Homo sapiens: one gene and its partners. The gene in region 4 interacts genetically with the main gene of each other region. Each region holds a gene or a part of one and is shown on either strand. Other genes may lie near its edges. The genes, in order: ITGB7, CSF3R, PNMT and GCK.

The links.
Region 1: changes in GCK (region 4) and ITGB7 together harm fitness more than expected from each alone (negative genetic interaction), as found in Homo sapiens cells (one large-scale study listed by BioGRID).
Region 2: changes in GCK (region 4) and CSF3R together harm fitness more than expected from each alone (negative genetic interaction), as found in Homo sapiens cells (one large-scale study listed by BioGRID).
Region 3: changes in GCK (region 4) and PNMT together harm fitness less than expected from each alone (positive genetic interaction), as found in Homo sapiens cells (one large-scale study listed by BioGRID).

The regions. Positions count from the first base shown.
Region 1 is NC_000012.12:53,190,063-53,194,670, forward strand, and holds the end of ITGB7 (integrin beta-7 isoform a precursor), read right to left. Parts: exon of another isoform or gene 4,283-4,608; coding exon 4,136-4,282; exon of another isoform or gene 3,840-4,135; coding exon 3,646-3,839; exon of another isoform or gene 3,302-3,645; coding exon 3,078-3,301; exon of another isoform or gene 2,849-3,077; coding exon 2,629-2,848; exon of another isoform or gene 2,477-2,628; coding exon 2,268-2,476; exon of another isoform or gene 1,958-2,267; coding exon 1,797-1,957; exon of another isoform or gene 1,670-1,796; coding exon of another isoform or gene 1,637-1,669; exon of another isoform or gene 1,575-1,636; coding exon 1,494-1,574; 3' UTR 1,261-1,493; downstream 1-1,260. UniProt on the Homo sapiens protein: Integrin ITGA4/ITGB7 (alpha-4/beta-7) (Peyer patches-specific homing receptor LPAM-1) is an adhesion molecule that mediates lymphocyte migration and homing to gut-associated lymphoid tissue (GALT).
Region 2 is NC_000001.11:36,479,752-36,485,354, forward strand, and holds the start of CSF3R (granulocyte colony-stimulating factor receptor isoform a precursor), read right to left. Parts: upstream 3,163-5,603; 5' UTR 3,060-3,162; intron 1,787-3,059; 5' UTR 1,727-1,786; intron 330-1,726; exon of another isoform or gene 236-329; intron 1-235. UniProt on the Homo sapiens protein: Receptor for granulocyte colony-stimulating factor (CSF3), essential for granulocytic maturation. Plays a crucial role in the proliferation, differentiation and survival of cells along the neutrophilic lineage.
Region 3 is NC_000017.11:39,666,446-39,671,592, reverse strand, and holds PNMT (phenylethanolamine N-methyltransferase), read right to left. Parts: upstream 3,141-5,147; 5' UTR 3,118-3,140; coding exon 2,916-3,117; exon of another isoform or gene 2,572-2,915; intron 1,965-2,571; coding exon 1,757-1,964; intron 1,643-1,756; coding exon 1,204-1,642; 3' UTR 1,118-1,203; downstream 1-1,117. UniProt on the Homo sapiens protein: Catalyzes the transmethylation of nonepinephrine (noradrenaline) to form epinephrine (adrenaline), using S-adenosyl-L-methionine as the methyl donor. Other substrates include phenylethanolamine and octopamine. Also methylates normetanephrine.
Region 4 is NC_000007.14:44,186,057-44,191,590, reverse strand, and holds the start of GCK (hexokinase-4), read left to right. Parts: upstream 1-2,151; 5' UTR 2,152-2,637; coding exon 2,638-2,682; intron 2,683-5,534. UniProt on the Homo sapiens protein: Catalyzes the phosphorylation of hexose, such as D-glucose, D-fructose and D-mannose, to hexose 6-phosphate (D-glucose 6-phosphate, D-fructose 6-phosphate and D-mannose 6-phosphate, respectively).

The DNA of each region.
Region 1 (4,608 bases), on a different chromosome or scaffold from region 4:
AACAGCCATAGCAGAGCCACCCCTGCCAAGGACCCAGTGAGGGAAACTCAGGAGCAGGTGGTTGGTTCAGTTCCCGCGCTGATGTCTGGGGCAGTGCATGTGTGAGAAGAGAGGCGCAAAGCAGTGAAAGGAGTGATTTGGCATCCAGAGGGCCCGGGAGCCCCACGGATACCCCAGGGAAGCCACTGACTCACACCGCTGCAGAGGCTCCTGGGCCCAATGCCCGACCCCTGCTGGCCAGCATGGGGCCTAGCACTGGAAGATGCCTCAGGTGTGTTTGGAGTGGGGGAAACGGAAGTAGGGCACGCTCTCAGAGACCAGGATAGAGAGTCAGGGAACCTGGGAAAGAGTAGTGCCAGTTCCGGGTAGGCTGCTGCACCAGGCCCTACCAGCTCAGGCTATAAACAGTCTGCTTTGCCCCAAGTCTTTTCCGTCCACCCCCAACAGCCTTGTCATCACTTAGCTACTGATCACGCCCATGGCTTGACATTGGAGGGTTACATTAGTGGAGTCCGCCACAGCTTCGAACCCTCTCCCCAGATGCCCTTTGCCTCTGCTGTGGCCCTGGGGTTTTATCAACTGTCCCCTTCCTATCCTCCTCTCCACCCTGTTTTTTGTTTTTTTTTTTTTTAAATAATATTTTGCTATGGGGGAGGGGAATATCAAATGGACAAGATCACTTTTAAATGGTAGTTTTTATAAGATGTTATAAACTTGTATCTTTTTACCATTAAAGTGCAGTGTATGTTCCTTCGTGATATATTTAGGATATTTAAATAAAAGGAAAATGGGGCTTTTCTACATACTATCTCCTCTTTGGGGAAGCTTTTTCATACTGGTTTTAGTTGTTTTCCTTTTTTCTCCCTACATAATCACCCCACAACTTCCAGCACCCTATAAGCCATTTTAAAACCCCTTCTCCACAGAGGAACAAGCAAGTAGGAGCAAAAACAGGGCATCAGTTCTGAGCAAGACGAAAAAGCACACGCAGCAGGACGGAAGGAGGCTAGACACCAACAGATGCAGTGTCTCTGACCTGGGACCCCCCTGCATCCGCAGCACTTGAGAATTCATAGGCCCTTTCCAGACCTGGCTTCCTGGGTCCCAGGGTGCACCCCGGGAGTTTCCTGCACATTCGCGCTTGGGCACCTCTCCCTGCCCTCAGGTGGCAAGAGGAGGATGGACAAGAGCTTTCCCGAGGCCCAGGCTATAAACAGTCTGCTTTGGCCTTGATGAGGTAAAGCAAAGTGACAGCTGTGGTCTGAGGTAAGACTTTATTGTATACTTGGGTGGGGTAGCCCAGATGGATGCAAGGTTGCAGGCATGGGAAGCAGCCCTCTTGGGTGTCACTCTGAAAATGAAGTAGGGTGGTGGCCGCACCTCGCCAGTGAATTAGTCCCCTACCAAGGTCTTACAGACCCACCCTTCCTCTCACCCTCCAGTTCCCACTGTCCTCCAAGGAGAAGAGCCTTGGGTAAGTGTCCCTCCCTCCTTCAGAGAGTGGGACTGTCTGCCTCTTGAAAGCGAGGATTGATGGTGGTCGTGATGGCACTTTTGTAGAGAGGATTACTGTCCTGGAGAAAGATGTTGCAGATTATAAGCAAAAATCCCAGGATTCCTCGTCCCCTTTCTAGACCTAAGAGGCCAGCCTTGAGCCGAATCCTAGGAGCTGATGGAAGTTAGCAGAGGGGTTGGTTACATGTGCCAGGGGCTGGGGGAACCCAGTGGGAGGAATCAGGGCTGGTCTTGTGGTGGGGGAACAGCTAAAAAGGGGCCTAACCAGGAAGTCTCCTCACCTGCTTCCAGTTGAGTTGTTGCTGCTCCTTCTCAAAGCGACTGTATTCCCGGCGGTCATAGATTTCCACCGAGAGCCGGTAAGCCAGGACCAGCCCCAGCCCCACTGCCACGATGCCCCCTACGCAGCCCAGCACAATGGCCTGCGTGTGGTCTGCTCCCTCTGTGAACAAGAAACCAGACACACTTGTGGGAGCTGGAGCATAGGGACAGATCATCAGTTGCTCACAGTGTGTCCAGCCTGTCCAACCCTGTCTGTCACTGAAAGCAAAGGGAACCCAGGGAGGTCCAAGGTTATCCTCACCGCCCAGGGCCTTAGCCTCGTCCACTTGCTCAATTGCCTCTGCCTTTGTCCTGGATTCACAGTTCTGCTTCAGCCCCCAGCCTGTTTCCCATTATCTTCACTCTGCATCCCCAGAGTTGAGACCCTGCCCATCAAACTTCCAGGGTTTGTGGCATCCCTGCCCACTTACTTTCTTGGGGTCTCACTCTGAGCACGACCGTGCCTCTGGCGTCATCCTCCACCAAGAAGAAGAACAGCTGGTTGTCCAGGGTCCGCTCTTTGCACCAGCCATCATCCAAGATAGGGGCCAAGGCCAGGGTCACATTGGTATGGGCACAAGCTGTACTGCAGTTGGTGGCCAGTGGGCCAGTCCTGAAGGCCCCACACTCTGCACAGTCCCTGTGTAGTAGATGCCAATAGGTTACCAGCTGGGCAGTTGTCACCCAATGCCCCTTGCCCAACTACAAGCAGGACGGAGAGTAGGCAGATGGGAGTAGCTCAACAAGCCCCACTGTGCCCCTGCTCCCAAGATGCAAGACCTGAGGCCTCACCGGTGTCTCTCGCATGGTGTCTTGCAGCCTGGGCATTGGTCGCATAGAGCACCATAGTAGCCGTCCAAGCACTGGCAGCGGTTGCATTTGCAGCGTCCATGCCCACTGCAGAGCCCTCCCTCGGGACTGATGCAACTGTCCATGTCCCCACTGCATTCGCATGCTCTGCCCGTGCGGTTGGCATGACAGTGACATACTCCACATTGGCAGCGACCAAAGCCTGGGGTAGAGCCATGCAGAGGGTGACAACCATACTCCACACACACAGTTGGCCATCATGTGGCACGACAAGCCCACGCATCCAATCTTTTTGAAGTATGCCAACCACACCCTCTAACCCATACACCGGAATCTTTTGATATTTGCCTTCCATGCCAGGAGATTCCCAGAGCCTAAGTGCCTTGGGAAGGCCTCTCAGACCCCGCCCTTCTCCCCAAGGCTCCAGGTACCTCCGCAGAGGATGCCCTCATGTCGCTCACAGCTGGCATCGTCACACTCGCACAGATGCCCAGAGCTCTGTCCACTGCAGCTGCAGCGTCCACATTGACAGTGACCCTTTCCACTGCACAGGGGCCCTGTGCCATTGGGAGCCCGGCACCCAGATTCCAGGTCTGGGGAGGACAGCTCTGCCACAGAGCACTCACAGAGCCGACCTAGGCGGCCAGGGGCACAGCTGGAAGGGGAAGGCAAAGGAGAGAAGTAGGTCAGAGGGTTTGATCACCCCTGACTTGTCTCTCCCAGGAACCTCTAAACCCAAGTTCTCAAAAGAGTTGGAGACAGACAAACAGCTGAAAGGATGTTAAGTATAGTGAAACACTGAGGGGTGAGAGAGTGGAGGGAGCCCCAGTCAGGGGGAGGGCCTGGACATACATGGGAAGCTTCAAGGGATGAAACTGAGTGGGGAGTCGGGATGTCGAGGAGACTCCTGTGGGGGGGATGGAAAGCAGCGGAGGAATACGGGCCAGGGTTGGTTGGTTGTTGGGAGCCAGGTGGTTGAAGGGAAGAGGAGGCCCTCACCTGCATACACCACATTGTAGGTGTCCCTGGCCATCACTGCAGTGGGGAGCCTGGGGCTGGGTGTCACTGCAATTACAGTCACACAGCGTGTGCAACTCCACAATCAGCTCCTCTGAGAAGCCAAGGGCCCGGAGCCTCAGGAGATGGGGCTCTGGGAGGCAGTGGGTGGCTTGGAGAGAAACCCAGAAAGTCACCTGAGAAGAGGCAGGAATCAGGCCATGGTTATACACATGCACACACACATACCCCAAACTCACCAATCATCCAGAACCTCACCCCTTAGTAAATGAAGGGATGGGGTCATGTTAACACCCAACTCCTAGAAACATGCCTGAGGAAGCCACTCAGACTGCTCCAGGAAGGATGGATGGAGGACTACCTCAGGCTCTCATGTCACTCCCTGTACCTGCCACCCATCTTTTCCTGCCTGCTTAATTTCCCACTCCCACCTCCCCCTGCCCGCCTTCTGCCTGTGCTTGCTGGCTCTCACCGTCTGGTTGATTCGGACGTGGTTGCACTGTCCTCGATCCTCAGCCTTACCCTCCCTCTTCTCAGGACCCTCACACTGGGATTCGTAAGAAATGTGGACCCCAGGAGGGAGTGAAGAGTGTTCAAGGGTCACGGTGGAAGACAGGCTCTATGGGAAGAGAGCGAGTGGATAACCACGTGAAGGCAGAAAAGGACTCCAACCCCACCTTATGTCCTCTCCAGGTGTTCCCAATTCTGCCAGCACCCTGCCCTCTGCCACCTGGGGCTCCTTCCATTCTGCCCAGTCGAGGCATTTCTGGAGGGAGGACCCGTGAGAACCTTGCATAGAACATACAGGATCCAGAGGCCTCTAATACAGCATTTCAGTGCAGCTGCCAGCAAGGGCCACTGAGGGTCACAGGCTGGCCAGGTGCTGTAAATGTACAGAGACCATGTTTGTGAAGCCCCACATCAGGACACATAACCTGGGTGCAT
Region 2 (5,603 bases), on a different chromosome or scaffold from region 4:
ACAGTTATTATACTTGCCTTCCAGGAAAGAGCAGGGAAAGGAGCAGTGAGGAAGAGCATTCTTCCGCCTTCCCAGCTATCTAAGCTAGGCTACCCCTAGAGAGCAGAACCTGAGATGAGGAATTGCATGCTGGTAGTTTATTTTGAGAAGATCCTAGCAGCAGATAAGGGACTGGGGAGAATGAAACAGGGAAGGAGAGAAAGCCAGCACAAAGTTACATCATCATGTTGGTCACCTCTATGGACAACTGGGGCTCTATCCTGCTGGAACCTTCCAAAGAGCCATGTAGAACACTTCTCAGAGCTGTCCACTGGAGGGTCAATTTATCCCTTGGATGGGAGGGAAGATGGAAAGATTTACCCACTGACTCCTGCCCCCCATTGGTCAAGGGATGCCTCTTGGGGTGTTCATTCCCTGGCACATCCAGGTTGGGCATGCATGAGTACTAGGCAGGTTCTCCTGGGGAAGCCATGCCAGTGTTGTCAGGGACACTCCCTGGAAGAAAGGGAGAACTCTATGGAGCAGCTGAGGCAAGGGGCTGTCAGGTTATGCCTGCAGGAAGCTGGCTGCCTCAGCCATGTGGGCTGAGAGAATATCAAGTGGGGCACCCGAAGGGTCCAGTGTGCCCCCAATTTTGGGCACAGACCTCTGGTGGCCTTCTGGGGTCAGGCATCATGAGGTCACGGCCATAGCACCTGGATGGAGGGTGCCTTGGCTCCAGTCTTAGGAAGTATGCAGAGGTTTCTACCACTTGGGTGGGTGTCCAGCCTCATCTTCACCCTGCTCCCATTGGGGTCTTGGAGCCAACACCTGATCCTCCAGCACGAGTTGGTGCTCTTGGTGGCAGATCAGTGGGAATCGCTGGTCAGCTTGCACGTACATATCTGGACACATACACGCAGGTGGTGTCCCAGCAGATCCCTCGTGCTCAGCAGGGAGAAAGGTAGGAGAATCCTTTTCTCTTCCTCCCAGACAGAGGTGTGGATAAGAACTGCCCAGATACCCAAGGTTGTTACTGCTCACAGGGGTCTTACCCAAACCCCCAGTCTATCCATGTATATATTGCAGTATCGGAATACCCAGTGACTGCTAGCCCGTAAGTCTCCTTTGTGCAAATCAGAAAGAAAGCACCCCTTCCTCTGGATGGATGCAGCACCACACTAGGACCTGGCAACTAGGGAACAGCCTGGATTTCGGCTCCAGTTACTCCTCAGTTTTGTGCAGTGAGAAACCTGTACAAGTATCCCGAGCATCTGTCTACCCATCGGTGGTTGGTAACCTTCTTACTATAGCATACCAGTTTGATTATCCCCCCGCAACACTGGTTGGGGAAGATTTAGCCTCCAAGGCCCAGATTTTGGGACACTGGTTTTCATCTCCATGTGCTTTTGATCCTATCCCAGCCCTGTTGCCCTAGCCAGGGTCAGCTTCAGGCCCAGCCTATGCCCCGTGCAGTACCACCCTATCCGCCTCCACTGGCTCCTGTCCAGAGTAGACAACCTAACCCCAAGAGGCCCCGGCATCCTTCCCCTGGGTGCTGGGTGTTGGCCTGCTTGGCCTCAGTCTCTGGTCCTCCACTGCAGCCCTGGACGTCCCCCAGCCTGGTTAAGTGGGCCTAGGACCTGTTGGAGCATGGTCTCACTCTCTGGGGGGCCGATATGCAGAGAGGTTTGGAGCCCAGCTCAGATTCAGGTCACCTGACTTGATCTCCAGCTCCGCCACTTACCAGCTTTGTGATCTTGGACAAGTTACTTCACCTTTCCGAGCCGAGCCTCAGTTTCCCCATCTGTGGGAAAGAAATAACATTAGCACTCACTCCTCAGCGTTGTTGTGAGGATGAAATGAGATTATTTTGGTAAAGGCATTTAGCCCTGTGCCTTGCATGGAGTTGGCACTCAGCAACCATAGGTTATTTTCACGAGCCATAAATAGCAGGTCAGCAGCTCACAGAATCCAGCACAGTTCAGTTTTCCCCTCACCCCTGCCTCCCTCACAGCCTGTGTGGTCACACCTCCCAGGACTGCCACCTTGCTTTTGTCTGTGCCACACTGCGCAGTTCCAAAGCCCCCTTTCTGGATCCTCTCCTCCTAACTCCTGGGCCCCCTGGCCCTCCTGTCACTGCGGCCATCTCTGCTGGGCTCTGCAGGTGCTCACTCCTGTGGCCCAGCACAGCTCGATGTCTCCTGGGCTGGCTGCCTTCACATTCCCTCTTTCTGTTTCTCCCTCATCACGCTCAGCCCTCTCCCCTCACACTCTCTTCCCCACTTCACACCCCTCGCTCCCTTGCTGTTTCTACTCTCACCTCGAGATTCTTTCTGTGGGAAGGGTGGGGAGGGAGGAGGGGGCTGGGAATAAACAGAGGGGAGAGGCATTTCCAGATATGCTGCAGATAAAGAAAAAGAGAGAGCAACAGGAAGAGTGACAGAGTGAGGCGGTGACTGAAATCCACACAGACTGAAACGACAGAGAGACTCGCCAAGAGGACGATTGAGGCCAGAGAGATATCGAGAGACAGAGAAAAAGGGCCCAATGTACGCCGACCCAGAGAGTGGGCGGGGGGGGGGCACTCGGAGGCCTGGAGCCCGGGAAGCGTCTGTTACCGAGAGTTTAAGATTCAAGAGATAGCAGGAAATATGCGAGACAGAGAAACTCAGAGAGATAGCAAGCCAGAGAGAAGCTGAGGAGGAAAGATGGAAACAGAGAGTGAAATAGAGACCCAGACGGGGAGGGGTTGCGCGGCTGGAACTCACAGACACACACGTCCTGAGAGACAGAGGCATGGGGAGGGGAGAATGATTATGCCTGTCCCCAGCCCAGCTCAGTGTCCCCAAGGAGATACTTGGCTGTGAGTGACTTCCCTGGTGCAATACCCCCAAAAGTAGGGGCATCCTGTGAAAAGAGACTCAGTGTCCAGGGCTGGGGTTCCAAAGGACGAATCCCGGGCCCCAGGCCTAGGACCCCGGACATGAACACTTGGCAGAGCTGTGGGGAGTGGCCCCAGGATTCCAGCTCTCCATCAAGCCCAAGGCTCAGCCCCTCTCTAGGGATCCCCTACTCACGTTGGCACCTCTGGCCCAGCCCCTGCTTGGCCTCCTTGGTCTCTCTTCTCGTCAAGAGAAGTTCCTGAAACCAGCTGCAGTCCAGCTTCTCTCCCCGAGCTCTGTCGTTAATGGCTCAGCCTCTGACAGGCCCGGGGGCTGGGGATTGCAACACCTTCCGAGCCTCCCTCCTGCCCTCCCTTGCGCCTTCGAGGGCACAGGCAGCCCCTTCCTCCCAGGAAGGAGCCTGTGAGGGAAGCTGGTGAGGCCCGGGCAGCCTTCCTGCCTTGGGGGTCTTAAAGGGCTGGGGAATGTGGCAACGATGTCCCCCTCCCCTGCCTCCGGATTTCCTGAGCTCAAAGCTTTGAGGCTGGGCAGGGCCCAGGCTCCCACCTGGCTGGGTGCCATCCTTATGCCCCCTGCCCTGGGGGAGCATCACTTGGAGGCAGGCCCTGGCTGGAAGGCTCACCCGGCCCTAAGCCTCTTTTCAGCTCTAGCCTTGGGGACCACATCTTCACAGTACTCAGAAGGGTGTGTTCCAGGTTCCAGGGAATTGTGTAACCCAATACTCACTGCTCCCCTCTTCATTACGTATTCTGTGCATTGCCCATAGACCAGGCAGATGGAGAAACAGGAATTCTGGGGGCAAGACAGGAGGACGTCTTGGTGAGGCACGGGGTCTTTATATGTTCACTAAAAATTAGGAATGTTTACCCACAATGGTTCTGCAACACTGAATATTTTGTAATTGAGTGAAATAGACTACATTTTATGTCTTTTATTGTCTGTATTCATGATTCTTCTAAAACTACAAATAATTTTCTTTGCATTTTCTGAGAAAGGTTCAAACTGCTCATAGTTTATTGGATTCATAACCCAAAAAAGGTTAGGTGCCAACAGACCAGCAGACTGTCCTTAACATATAATCCTTTTGAGGCATCTGGGTCTGGTGTGATGCTGCAGACCAGGGCTGTAGTTCTAGTTCCAAGTCAAATGACCTGACTGCCTGCTGCAACCCTCCCAAGATATCCCACAGGCTCTGCTCGCTCAGTGAGTCCCATGGACTCTCTTCTTTCCAAATATAACCAGAATCCTGGGTATTCACTGTAAAGTTCAACTTGGCTCTACGTTTGAATATTTTTATGATAATATTTGGAAAATATAAATATAACTGAAACCAATACTAGCCAGCTCCAAGCTACCCTCATCTATTGCCTAGATAATCGCAATAGCCCCCTGCCTGCTCTCCTGCTTCTATTTCATCCTTGTTCCCGCACCTGTCTGTAATTCCTTCAGCAGCCAGTGCGATATCAATCAAACAGAAGTCTGATCAGCCCATCCTCGTCCCAACCTTTCCAATGGCTCCTGTCTCATTCAGAGTCAAAGTCAAAGCCCTTTGGATGGTCTACAAGGCCCTACAAAACCTGGTATCCCTGTTACCTCCTGGATCCCTCTCCTGTTATTCTCCCCCTTGCTGCCTTGCTCCAGCTACTCTGTGTTCTTTGCTTCTTGAACTTGTTATGCTGTCTCTTGCCTCAGGGCCTTTGCACTTGCTGTTTCATTTGCCTGGACTCTTTCCCCCGCAAATAGCTACATGGGCTGGTCCCTCCCCTTCTTCAGGTCTTTGCTCAAATGTCACTTTCTCATTGAGGCCTTCTCTGAGCACCCTTTTCAAAATTTGCAAGCCCCTTCCCTCCCACTCCCTATCTCTCTCTCCCCCAAATCCCTTTTCACCATCTGATATTGGCTGTCTCAATCCCCACTAGACTGAAAGTTCCATAAGAGCAACAGTTTTTATCTGTTTTGTTCAAAACTTTATCTCCAGTGTCTATAACACTGCTTGCCACACAGTAAGGCCTCCATGCGTGTTTGTTGAATGAATGATCAACTGGATGAATCTTCCCCCACTTCACCAAATCTGTCTCTAATCCCCACGTACCTTGTCATGGTGAATTAACCACCATCCCCTCCTCTCCCTAGTCATGCAGCTCAGGGACTCAGGAGTCATTCCTTACAACCCTTTCTCCACATTCCCATGTCCAGTCAGTTCTTTTAGTTCTTTTTTTTCTTTCTTTCTTTTTTTTTTTTTGAGACAGAGTCTCACTTTGTCACCCAGGCTGGAATGCAGTGGCGCGATTTTGGATCACTGCAACCTCTGACTCCCAGGTTCAAGTGATTCTCCTGCCTCAGCCTCCCAAGTAGCTGGAATTACAAATGCCTGCCATCATGCCTGGCTAATTTTTGTATTTTCAGTAGAGATTGGGTTTCACCATGTTGGCCAGGCTGGTCTTGAACTGCTGACCTCAAGTGATCCGCCCACCTCAGCCTCCCAAAGTGCTGGTTTTATAGGCGTGAACCACCGCACCTGGCCTTCTGGTCATTTTAAATTTATTTTTTATTTTTATTTTCATTCTTTTTTTTTGAGATGGAGTCTCGCTCTGCCACCCAGGCTAGAGTGCAGTGGCGCGATCTCGGCTCACTGCAACCTCTGCCTCCCAGGTTCAAGTGATTCTCCTGCCTCAGCCTTCTGAGTAGCTGGGACTACAGGCACGCACCACCACGCCC
Region 3 (5,147 bases), on a different chromosome or scaffold from region 4:
AACCTCCATTCCCCTGCTGCCAGCCCCTTTGCCATAGCCTGATTTTGGGGAGGAGGAAGGGGCGATTTGAGGGAGAAGGGGAGAAAGCTTATGGCTGGGTCTGGTTTCTTCCCTTCCCAGAGGGTCTTACTGTTCCAGGGTGGCCCCAGGGCAGGCAGGGGCCACACTATGCCTGCGCCCTGGTAAAGGTGACCCCTGCCATTTACCAGCAGCCCTGGCATGTTCCTGCCCCACAGGAATAGAATGGAGGGAGCTCCAGAAACTTTCCATCCCAAAGGCAGTCTCCGTGGTTGAAGCAGACTGGATTTTTGCTCTGCCCCTGACCCCTTGTCCCTCTTTGAGGGAGGGGAGCTATGCTAGGACTCCAACCTCAGGGACTCGGGTGGCCTGCGCTAGCTTCTTTTGATACTGAAAACTTTTAAGGTGGGAGGGTGGCAAGGGATGTGCTTAATAAATCAATTCCAAGCCTCACCTGCCCTTGTTCAGCTCATTTGTGTGAATAGGGTGGGCTGGAGGGCAGGAGAAGACAGTTGTGGCGGCAGGGGCAGGTCCCAGAGCTGGCTGGAGGCAGTAAACAGAGGTGAGGTCTCTGCCTGGGCACGTGGCATGGGGAATGGCAGGCCCCAGAGGCAGAGCTGGGCAGAACTCAAGTCCAGTTGTGAGAGGGAGCTGGAGCCAGTTCTTTCCCTTTCACTTCCCTCGGCCATTGTGCTTCAATCATAACACCCCCACCTCCCCACCACCTTGCAGATTCTACTTCCATCTCCTCATGATCCCCACTCTCCCTCGTTCTGGTCTGAAGCAGTCTGCACTGTTTGTGACTTCACCTCTCTGAGCTTCACCTGGAAACAGACTAGCAGGACCTGCTGCTGAATGCAGGAATGAATGATGCGATGGACACAATGGCATATCACAAGTGCCTGGTGCACTGCAGGTGCCCGGTGAGCTCCCCTGACCTTGGCCTTCCTTAGTTTGGGAAGAATGAGTGGTACAGAATGCTAGCCTCAAGGAAGCTTCTGGAAAAAAAGCCTAGGGTGAATGTCTCCCCTACCCGGACACTCAGATCTCTGGGCCCTTGCTGCTTCCCAGGAGAGCCACACACAGCACTGACCGCAGCGGCAGGGTATTATTTCTTTATTAGGTGCCACTTCAAAGAACAGGGAATCCAGGTGGGTGGGGGCCACAGGGCACCAGGTACAGCCCTCACAGCCCAACCTTCTGAGCCCAGGCGAAGAAGACGCCCTTGACATCATCTACGCCTGTCTGAAGGTGGGCAGGCATGATATAGGTGCGGAGGTCCCGGACCTTGTAGCCACTACGCACCAGGGCCTCCCTCACCTCCTCCTCAGACACTGGCACCACCGTCAGCCTGGCCTCCCCAGCCAGGTACCACGACTCCTCCAGGGCCCCGATGAGGAGGAGGTGCCCCCCAGGCCTCAGCAGCGTGGTGATGTGGTCCAGGGCCCGCTGAAAGCTGGCAAGATCTGGGCTCACAGCCTCCAAGCAGAAGGCAGAGACCAGGGCGTCAGCAGGCAGGGGAGCTGGGCTCCCAGCACCCAGGGGCTGGGGCTGGTGCACGTCGATGGGCAGGACCCGTTTCACCCTGGCTCGCAGCTGGCGCTCCTTATCCTGCCAGCATTCCCTGTGCAGGAGGCACAAGGCAGGGCTCAAGGCTGTTCTACGCTCAGGCCTCTGTTGCCCCAACCAGCCACTCTATGGGAAGCCTCCTCCCCAACCCTCACCCCCCAGTCCTTACCCCTTGCCCTCAATGAGGCAGGCATGTTGGCTGTACATGCTCCAGTTGAAGGCCCCCGGCTCCTCCTGCAGCCAGCGCCCCAGCTCCTGGCGGTTGACCTCCAGGAAATCTGTCATGGTGATGTCCTCAAAGTGGCTGCAGGCACTGAGCAGCTGGTACACGGTGGGGCCTGAACCAATGTCGATGAGGGTGCGTCCGGACACTTCACCTGGGCAGGGCAGAGGAAGAGGGTCCTGGTGCCAGCCAGCCCAGGCAGCCCCTGCCTCCTTACCCTTCCCTCCCCTGCATCTCCCTGCCTCTCTCTAGTTCTTCCTTCTCCTCTGCAAATGTGTCTCCATCTGGAAAAAGCATTGGCCCCAGAGTTAGACTGAACCCAGCTCCAACATGGGCTGCCCTTCGGAAGGGAACTTCACCGCTCTGAGACTCAGGTTTCACATCTAGAAGACTATACCTACTGGCCGGGCGCAGTGGCTCACACCTGTAATCCCAGCACTTTGGGAGGCCGGGGTGGGTGGATCCTAAGGTTGGGAGTTCGAGACCAGCCTGACCAACATGGAGAAGTCCCGTCTCTACTAAAAATACAAATAAATTAGCCAGGCATGGGGGCGCATGCCTGTAATCCCAGCTACTAGGGAAGCTGAGGCAAGAGAATCGCTTGAACCGGGGAGGCGGAGGTTGCAGTGAGCCGAGATGGCGCCATTGTACTCCAGCCTGGGCAACAAGAGCGAAACTCCGTCTCAAAACAAATAAAAAATAAAAATAAGTAAATAAATGAAAATAAAATAAAGAAAAAGAAAGAAAACAACTATACCTACCAGCCAGGCTCAGCGAGGAAATCCTGGCAGTTTCTCACCCCTGTCCCACATCTGCCTCCATTTCCTCCTATGCATCTCCACCTCAGTCTGTCCTGCATCCCCCACCTTAGCTCTCAATTCTGAGCACTCTCCGCCCCCTCTCTCCACCTCTCTCTCCTCTGCCCCTCTCCTAAGGGATGTTGCTCTTTTTTCTCTTCTGTTTGCACCTCTCAGCTATCTCTTGTTTCTTGGTCCCCATCTGTTAGGCGCCTGGTCTGTCTCCCTTTCCTTCTTTTTATTTCCCTGCGCCTGCTTTCACTCCCCGACGACCTCTTGTCCCTCGTGCCTCAGTTTCCCCCGCTCACCGGTGGCGAAGGTCTGCGCCAAGCAGCGCAGCTTCCACGGCCCGACGCCGTTCGGGTTGCACAGGTCCCCGCGAGGGGGCGCGTAGTTGTTGCGGAGGTAGGCGCGCGGCTCGAAGCGCTGGTAGGCCGAAGCCACCGCCGCCTGGCCCGGGGCCGAGTCAGGGGCTGCGCCCGCATTGGGGCTACGGTCTGCGCCGCTCATGCTGCCGCCGCGGTCCGCCCAGTGCCCCGCTCGCCTCGCGGCCCTTTTTTCTACCGCCCGACCCCCGCCCCGACCGGTCCGCTGTGGGGGCGGCAGCTGACCGCCGAGCCGCCCGGGGCCATGTGCGCCGCATCCTCCCCACCCATTCATCCATCTCCCTTAGTGTCCGGGCTGCAGACACACCGGAGGTGAGTGGGGCGGCGGCTGCAGCGGCAATCGTCCCCCACACCCCCGGCTCCGTACTTGCTCCCGCAGCCCTCGCCCTCCGCCTCGCCTGCCCCGCCCCGAGTCCCGCCTCTGGGCGCCCCCCACCCTCAGTTCCTCACCCCCACAATCTTTAGACCCCCTCACCCCCGCCGGCCGGCCCCTCCCATCTCTCTTCTCCAGCCCCCCGCAGCCATTCACCTCTTTTGCCCAGCAGCCCGCCCCTTCTCTTTCCTGATTCGAGGTGGAGACTGGGGAATTAGGCCCTTTCCCCAGTTTCCCCCTCGCAGCGCCCTCCGCGACGAGGCCCCAGACCCCGCCAGGCTCCCCTCCCTCCCGGACACCCGTCCCAGCACCCACCCTTCCCTTAGAACTGCCACACAACTCCCCCTCCCCGCCCCTCCTCCAGGCCTCTCTCGTCCGTTGCTATGCCACCGGGCCCTCCAGCGACACCCCCTCCCCACCCCGCCCCAGAAAGGACAGTCCGTTCCGGCCTCCGCTGTGGTCGCTCCGGGGGCCCCAGAGCAGGGCGCGGCACTGCCCGTCCGATGGCAGGCGCGATAGGGGAGGTGAGCTGTGCTAATGCACTTAGCGGGCGGAACAGCCGGGCCTCCCCTGCGGGCCCCGCGGGTTCCCAGCCGCTTATCTGGGGGCTCCCGAGGACAGAAGGTTCGGGTTCGGGTTGTTCCCGCCACTTCGGGGGCGGCGCCGGACCCGGGTGAGGGCAGAGGGCTTGGGCAGGGGAGGGGCAGGACGCATTCGCGGAGGGCCGCCGGGGCCACCGGGGAGCGCAGTCCGGGCCTTGGGGCCCAGCCGATTTGGGGTCCTGCGGATGTAGGGGCTCTGACCCCACTCCTCTCGCAGCCCACCCTCCAGCTTCCCTCCGAAGGAGCGGCCAGGCCAGGCATGAAGATTCTGCTCAGCACCCCAGGTTCTGGCTGTCAAAATGCCAGGGTCTCCCCACCTATCTCCCAGATGGGAAGCCAATTCTGCCTGTGGCATCTCCGTGGTCTTCCTGAAGACCCCTTCCTTCCCCTCTGGATGAGTCCCGGGCCCTTCTGCCCTGGGTAGGTCACCAGCCCAGCTCCTGCCACCGTGGGTTCCTGGCCCCGCTTGATGTGGGCCTCCTCCATGCCATTCCCTCCCCCTTGTCCCCAGGGGAAAGTCTCCTTGGGAGAGGCAGCTAGGTTGGGACATGAGTCACCACAACAGCTGCAGGGGTCACAGAGGGGAGCCTGACCCCCTAGCACCTCCAACCTTCCCTGGCTTCCAGGGCAGGGGGTGTGGAGCGAGACACAGCTGAGGATTGATTCTGTCTGGATTCAGAACTGAGAGGCAGGTTAGTTTTAGAGGTCACTGACCCCGTTCACACCCCGAGGCAAAGCCAAGGACAGTCCTGGCACCAGCCCCTCCATATTCTCCACGAGACATCATTGAAACAAACCCTGGATGCGGATGCCAGCTGGCTTGCTGGTTACCACCCAGTGCCAGGGGGCTGGACACAGAAGCCAGGACTGGGCAGCGGTCAGGGTACGGGAAGGAGACTGGAGACAGCACCCTGTTTACAGCTCTGTCCTGCCCCCACCCCCACCCCAAGTATGGGGTGTACCCATTAGCTCTGCCATATTTAGCTCAGATGCGGAGCCTGGTCCCAGAAGTGGGCATTGAGGGGACACCCATGGGCCAGCCCCCCCAACCACAAGGAAAGAGATGCAACTCTGGCACATGATTGAGCATTTATTGCGGCACTAACAGAGGGTGCTGGGGGCCCCACCATCCTTGCCTCTGCCCTTTTCACCTCCCCCTCCCTCCCAGCTTCTTCTGCC
Region 4 (5,534 bases):
CTGAAGGACATAAAAGAAGACCAAAATAAATGAAACAACACATACTTCTAGATGAGAAAACTCAATATTATAAAGAGGTTAGTTCTCTAAAATGAATCCCTAAACCCACAAAGTCAATGTATTTCCAATGAAATTGTCAACAGCATTATTTTCCGAAGTGGGATGAGTAGTGCTAAGATTTATAAGAAAGCCAACATTCCAGAGCAGTGGGGAAGGGATTGCTTCACCACCAAATAGCCATATTAGAGATTCCCTTGCACCATACCCAAACCACCATCTCCCAGGACCCGGGAGAGCAGAAAAGAGGAATGAGAAGAAAGGCGAGGATGTGAGGTGTGCCCTCATAATGGCGGTGCACGCAGCACAAGCAATTGCAGAAAGACTAAAGTACTGAACAAATAGAAAACTTGGAAAAATATTAGAAGGAAATGTGGGAGAACATTTTTGCAATTTGGGGATTGGAAACGGTTTTCTTAACAAGATATAAAAACCCCAAAACAAGAAAACAAAGGTTGAAATTCATAAAAACTAGATACTTCTGTATGATGAAAGACACGATTAATCAAGTTGTTAAGTTTAGCAATAGACTAGGGGAGATATCATAGTATATTTAACAGACAAAGGATTAATAGATACTACAGATGAAATATAAAATAGTTTCTCCAAGTCCATAGGCAGAAGATAATCCAATAGCAACATAGTTAAGTAATGTAAACAAATCATCCTTAGAAGAAGAAATGCAATCACCAAGAAACACATGAAAAGGTGTCCAGCATTTTGCAATTCAAGCAACAATGAGGTGACAGATCGGCAAAAAACTCATAAAGATTTATCATCTGAAGGATTGGCCAAGATAAAGCCAAACTTCTCGTGTTGGCAGAAGAAACTGGTGAAGCCATGTGAAGAGGCCACGTGGTCCTGCCTACCAAGATGTAAAATGTGTACAGCATTTGAACTAGCAATTCAGCCTCCAGGAGCCATCCAGAAGAAACACTGACACACACTTAGACTCCGGTGAAATTCAAGGACTTCTGCCACAGCCTGCTTCGTAATAGTGAAAATCTGAAACTGCCTCAATGACCGTCAATAGGAAGTTGATTTTAAAGTGTTACAGCACATCTGTCTGGAGAGATCGCACTGGCCACTCCTCCTCACCCCCTCTGCTGGACCTCTGAGCGTAGGTGGCCTGGAGCTGGGTCCTGAGCCCTCTTTGGTCTATACCGACACTACCCAATATGGTAGCCACCAGTCACGCTGGACACTTGAAAAGTGGCCGATCCTGACTGAGAAGGGCCACGAGTGGGAAAAACACACCAGACCTCAGTGACTTAGGCAGAAGTATGTTTTGTTCCAGACTATTGACTGAGCCCGCAGCTGAGTTGGCTCCAGCACCCTGGCCCCCTGCTCCATCCACTCACTGGGACTCCCCACTGCACAGGGCAACCTCTCCAGGGGCACTTGGGCTGCGAAGGGGAGAGTGGGTGGCATCCCAGGCTGAAGCTTCCTGAGCAGGGCCAGAGGAGGAGCCAGTCCCTGTGGGCCTCTGTTCTGACAGTGTCAACCTCAGCCAGGCTTGTGTGGGCCAGGTGTACTGTTCTGGTTCAGATTTCAAGGAGATAGTCAGGGCAGGCCGCGCCAAAGCCCTCCGATGGGCTCCCCTACTGCCTGGCAGACCTGTCCAGCTTTGGACTCTGGCCCTGCGACCTGGAAGTCAGGCTGCCAAGAGGTCCAGGCAGTGGCCTCCACTGTGGAGGGTCTCTGGAGAGTTTACAGCCCTAGATAGGGGGGTTAGGGATGTGAGATGGTCCCAGGGGCCTGCTCCTGAGCCACGCCAAGCTGCCTGCTCCCTTTCCTCTGCTTCCAGACTCACGGGATCCTCTGCTCATCAGAACAGGAGTGTGGGAGACCCTGAGACACTGCCCCAGGATCTGAACAGGTGGCAAAGGCTTAACAGGCTAGCGGTCACTGTAGTGACAAGGCGATTGAGTGGTCACCATGGTGATGGGGATGGAGGCTCTTTGCCACCAGTCCCAGTTTTATGCATGGCAGCTCTAATGACAGGATGGTCAGCCCTGCTGAGGCCACTCCTGGTCACCATGACAACCACAGGCCCTCTCAGGAGCACAGTAAGCCCTGGCAGGAGAATCCCCCACTCCACACCTGGCTGGAGCAGGAAATGCCGAGCGGCGCCTGAGCCCCAGGGAAGCAGGCTAGGATGTGAGAGACACAGTCACCTGCAGCCTAATTACTCAAAAGCTGTCCCCAGGTCACAGAAGGGAGAGGACATTTCCCACTGAATCTGTCTGAAGGACACTAAGCCCCACAGCTCAACACAACCAGGAGAGAAAGCGCTGAGGACGCCACCCAAGCGCCCAGCAATGGCCCTGCCTGGAGAACATCCAGGCTCAGTGAGGAAGGGTCCAGAAGGGAATGCTTGCCGACTCGTTGGAGAACAATGAAAAGGAGGAAACTGTGACTGAACCTCAAACCCCAAACCAGCCCGAGGAGAACCACATTCTCCCAGGGACCCAGGGCGGGCCGTGACCCCTGCGGCGGAGAAGCCTTGGATATTTCCACTTCAGAAGCCTACTGGGGAAGGCTGAGGGGTCCCAGCTCCCCACGCTGGCTGCTGTGCAGATGCTGGACGACAGAGCCAGGATGGAGGCCGCCAAGAAGGAGAAGGTATCTCGCCCTCCATTGGGCATTCTGGGAGTGTTTGCTTGCCTGTCCCCAACATTCCATGGTTTGTTTGAGCCTCAGAATCTGATTTTATGCACAGGCTCTTTGAGAAGGGTCTTGCCAGGGGTGCCTTCTGGGGCAGGAAGGCCCCTACTGCCTGGCAGACCCATCCAGCTTTGGACTCTGGTCCTGCGACCCGGAAGTCAGGCTGCCAAGAGGTCCAGGCAGTGGCCTCCACTGGGGAGGGGCTCTGGAGAGTTTAGAGCCCTAGATGTGGGGGTTAGGGACATGAGGTCTTGTGGACAAAGCCCACTACCTGATTTTGAGACAACACTCACTAGACATGGTGACAAGTCAAAGATGCCTTGCCTCCTACCAGGAATCACTTCGCAGGGAGCCCGAGGGCTGCTGTGGCCTGCTGAGGAGTGCAGGGCAGTTACTTTTTCCAAAAACAAAGAGAAATCCAGGCATGCTCTGAGCCAGCCCTGAGCCCAGCAGTGAGCAAGGAGAGAGCTGGAGACAGGGGACTTTGCTGTGAAACACTGGGGGGAATGTGCCTGCATCACCCCAGCTGGGGGCCCAGGCAGAGTGGGGGAGAAGGGGTAAGTGGGCAGAGCCAGTCACTTTGGGCATGCTTCCCTCTCGCCTCTGTGTGAAATGACCAGGTCAGCATAAACCCCGGGCTGGCTGTGCTTCTGGCAGAGCTAATGATGTTAGGAGGAAAACAACCAACCCAAGTGAGAGGGTGCGCAGCCAGACAGCTGGACCGGCCGAGGCCCCAACCAAGTCCCAGATCTGCCTGTCACTGGTGCTATGGCAGCAATTTGGATGAGAAATCCTGCCCAAAGGGCCCCTTCAGGCCACCCGGGGAGAAGGAAGCGGCTGTCTTTGGCATGACCAGAAAGATGGCTCGGAGCTAGGGAGAGGTGGACATGTGGGCTGTGGAGATCTGGCACTTTCCCCAAACAAGGAGAGAAAGCATAGTGTGCCTATGTGTGAATGTGCTATGTGTGCATGTTTGTGCCTGTGCATACCTGCATGTGTACATGCATGTGCACATATGTGTGCACAGGGAATCACTTTAATAAAGGCCACAGCAGAGCTGTCCCTGAGCCCCTTGCATTCACAGTGGCATGTGAGTGAACCACCTTCTTAGGCTGGGCATCCAGTCTCAGACTCTGGGGCTGCCCATGCCCCATCCTTTATCTGCTCCACGTGTGAGGGGTTGCTGGTCCTGACCAGGGCCAGCTGTGAACCCCAGAATCCTGGGAAGTCACTGACATTCTTGTCAGGGCCAAGAGTGGAGCAAGGCAATGCCTCGGGCACAAACTTTAAGGGGTCACCAGAAACATCAATCATCAAGATATATGCTATTTTAAATAATCAAAATGAATGCAAAAAAAATTTATGATGGACAACATACCAAATTCTAAACAAAGGCAGGATGAGTATCACTGGCTTCTGCACTTTTCTCCACCCAGTCTACCCCTCTTCTAGTGCCTGGATCGCAGGGTGCCAAGGCCTGGATGAGGGAAGCGTGGAGCTGCAATGGCCACTCCTGTCTGCCTGTTCTGGCTGCACAGAGGACTCAGTCCTTGTCTTGGGGGAACCTATCTTGGTTTTAGGGTCATCCTAAGGATCTGATGTTTTCCAAGTGAGCTGGCTGTCCAGGCCCACCCAGGTTCAGTCCAGTCCTGTGTCTCTGGGAAGTGCTGCCCCTACCCCAAGCCAGTGTTTGACCTTGGAGCAATGAGCAATGCCCTCCTTCCACTTTCAAAGTTGTCCCCAAGACGTCAGCTGTGGTTGTCTCTGTGCAGACACCGAGGAGGAACTGTCTTCTTTCTCCTTTTGGTTGCTTTGGAGGAAAGTAAAGTGTTGCTGGTTTCCCTCTTTCTACTTCTTTGATTGAGAGCAGCCGTCTTGCCGGTACCAACCTTCCAGATCTTACCTGTGGTTGCAGGAGCCTGTGGCCTCAGTCCTGTGCCCAGTGACTTCTCCATGTGGATGTCAGCTCCTTAGGGGCAAGCCTGATTCCACTGACACTACTCCCACCCCTCATAAGCCCCTTCTTACCAGCTGCAGTTGCCTGGTACCCCACCATCGCTGACTCATTCCTTTGGCATCAAGGTTCATCCCTTACTGGGCCACCACTTCTGGGTGGCCTGAAATAGGGCCCTGGGCATCCCTCTTGGGGACCTTTTGGTCTATATTTTCACTCTCACCTCACTAAGGACAGATGAGTAAATCTGGTTAACTTTGCCTGATAGATTTGGTGACCTTTTTTCAGGAAGGAGCCTGGAAAGATGAGATTCAGGTGTATTGGTCAGCTTAGACTGCCATAAGAGAATACCATCCACTGATGGCTTAGAAACAACAGAAATCTATTTCTCACTATTCTAGAGGCTGGACGTCCAAGATCAGATGCCAGCATGGTCAGGTTGCAGGGAGGGCTCTCTTCCTGACTTGCAGACCGCCACCTTCTTGCTGTGTCCTCACATCGTGGAGAGAGAGTGAAAACAAGCTCTCTGGTGTCTCTTCTTATAAGAATGCTAATCCTATGATGGGGGCTCCCCCTCCTTACCTCATCTAAACCTAATTATCTCCCAAAGGTCTCATCTCCAGATACCATCACACTGGGGTTAGGGCTTTGACATATGAATCTGGGGGGACACAATTCAATCTGTAACACCAGGAGGGCATGCCGGGAGGAACTGACCTTCCTCCCTCCAGCTGCCCTGGACACCTTTGCCCCATTGAAGGAGCAGGCTCAGAAGTGGAATGAGGATGGAATAAGGTGCACTCCATCATGCTTACCCACATCCCTGGCAGGAATTGTCCTGGGCCCCAGCAGGAGA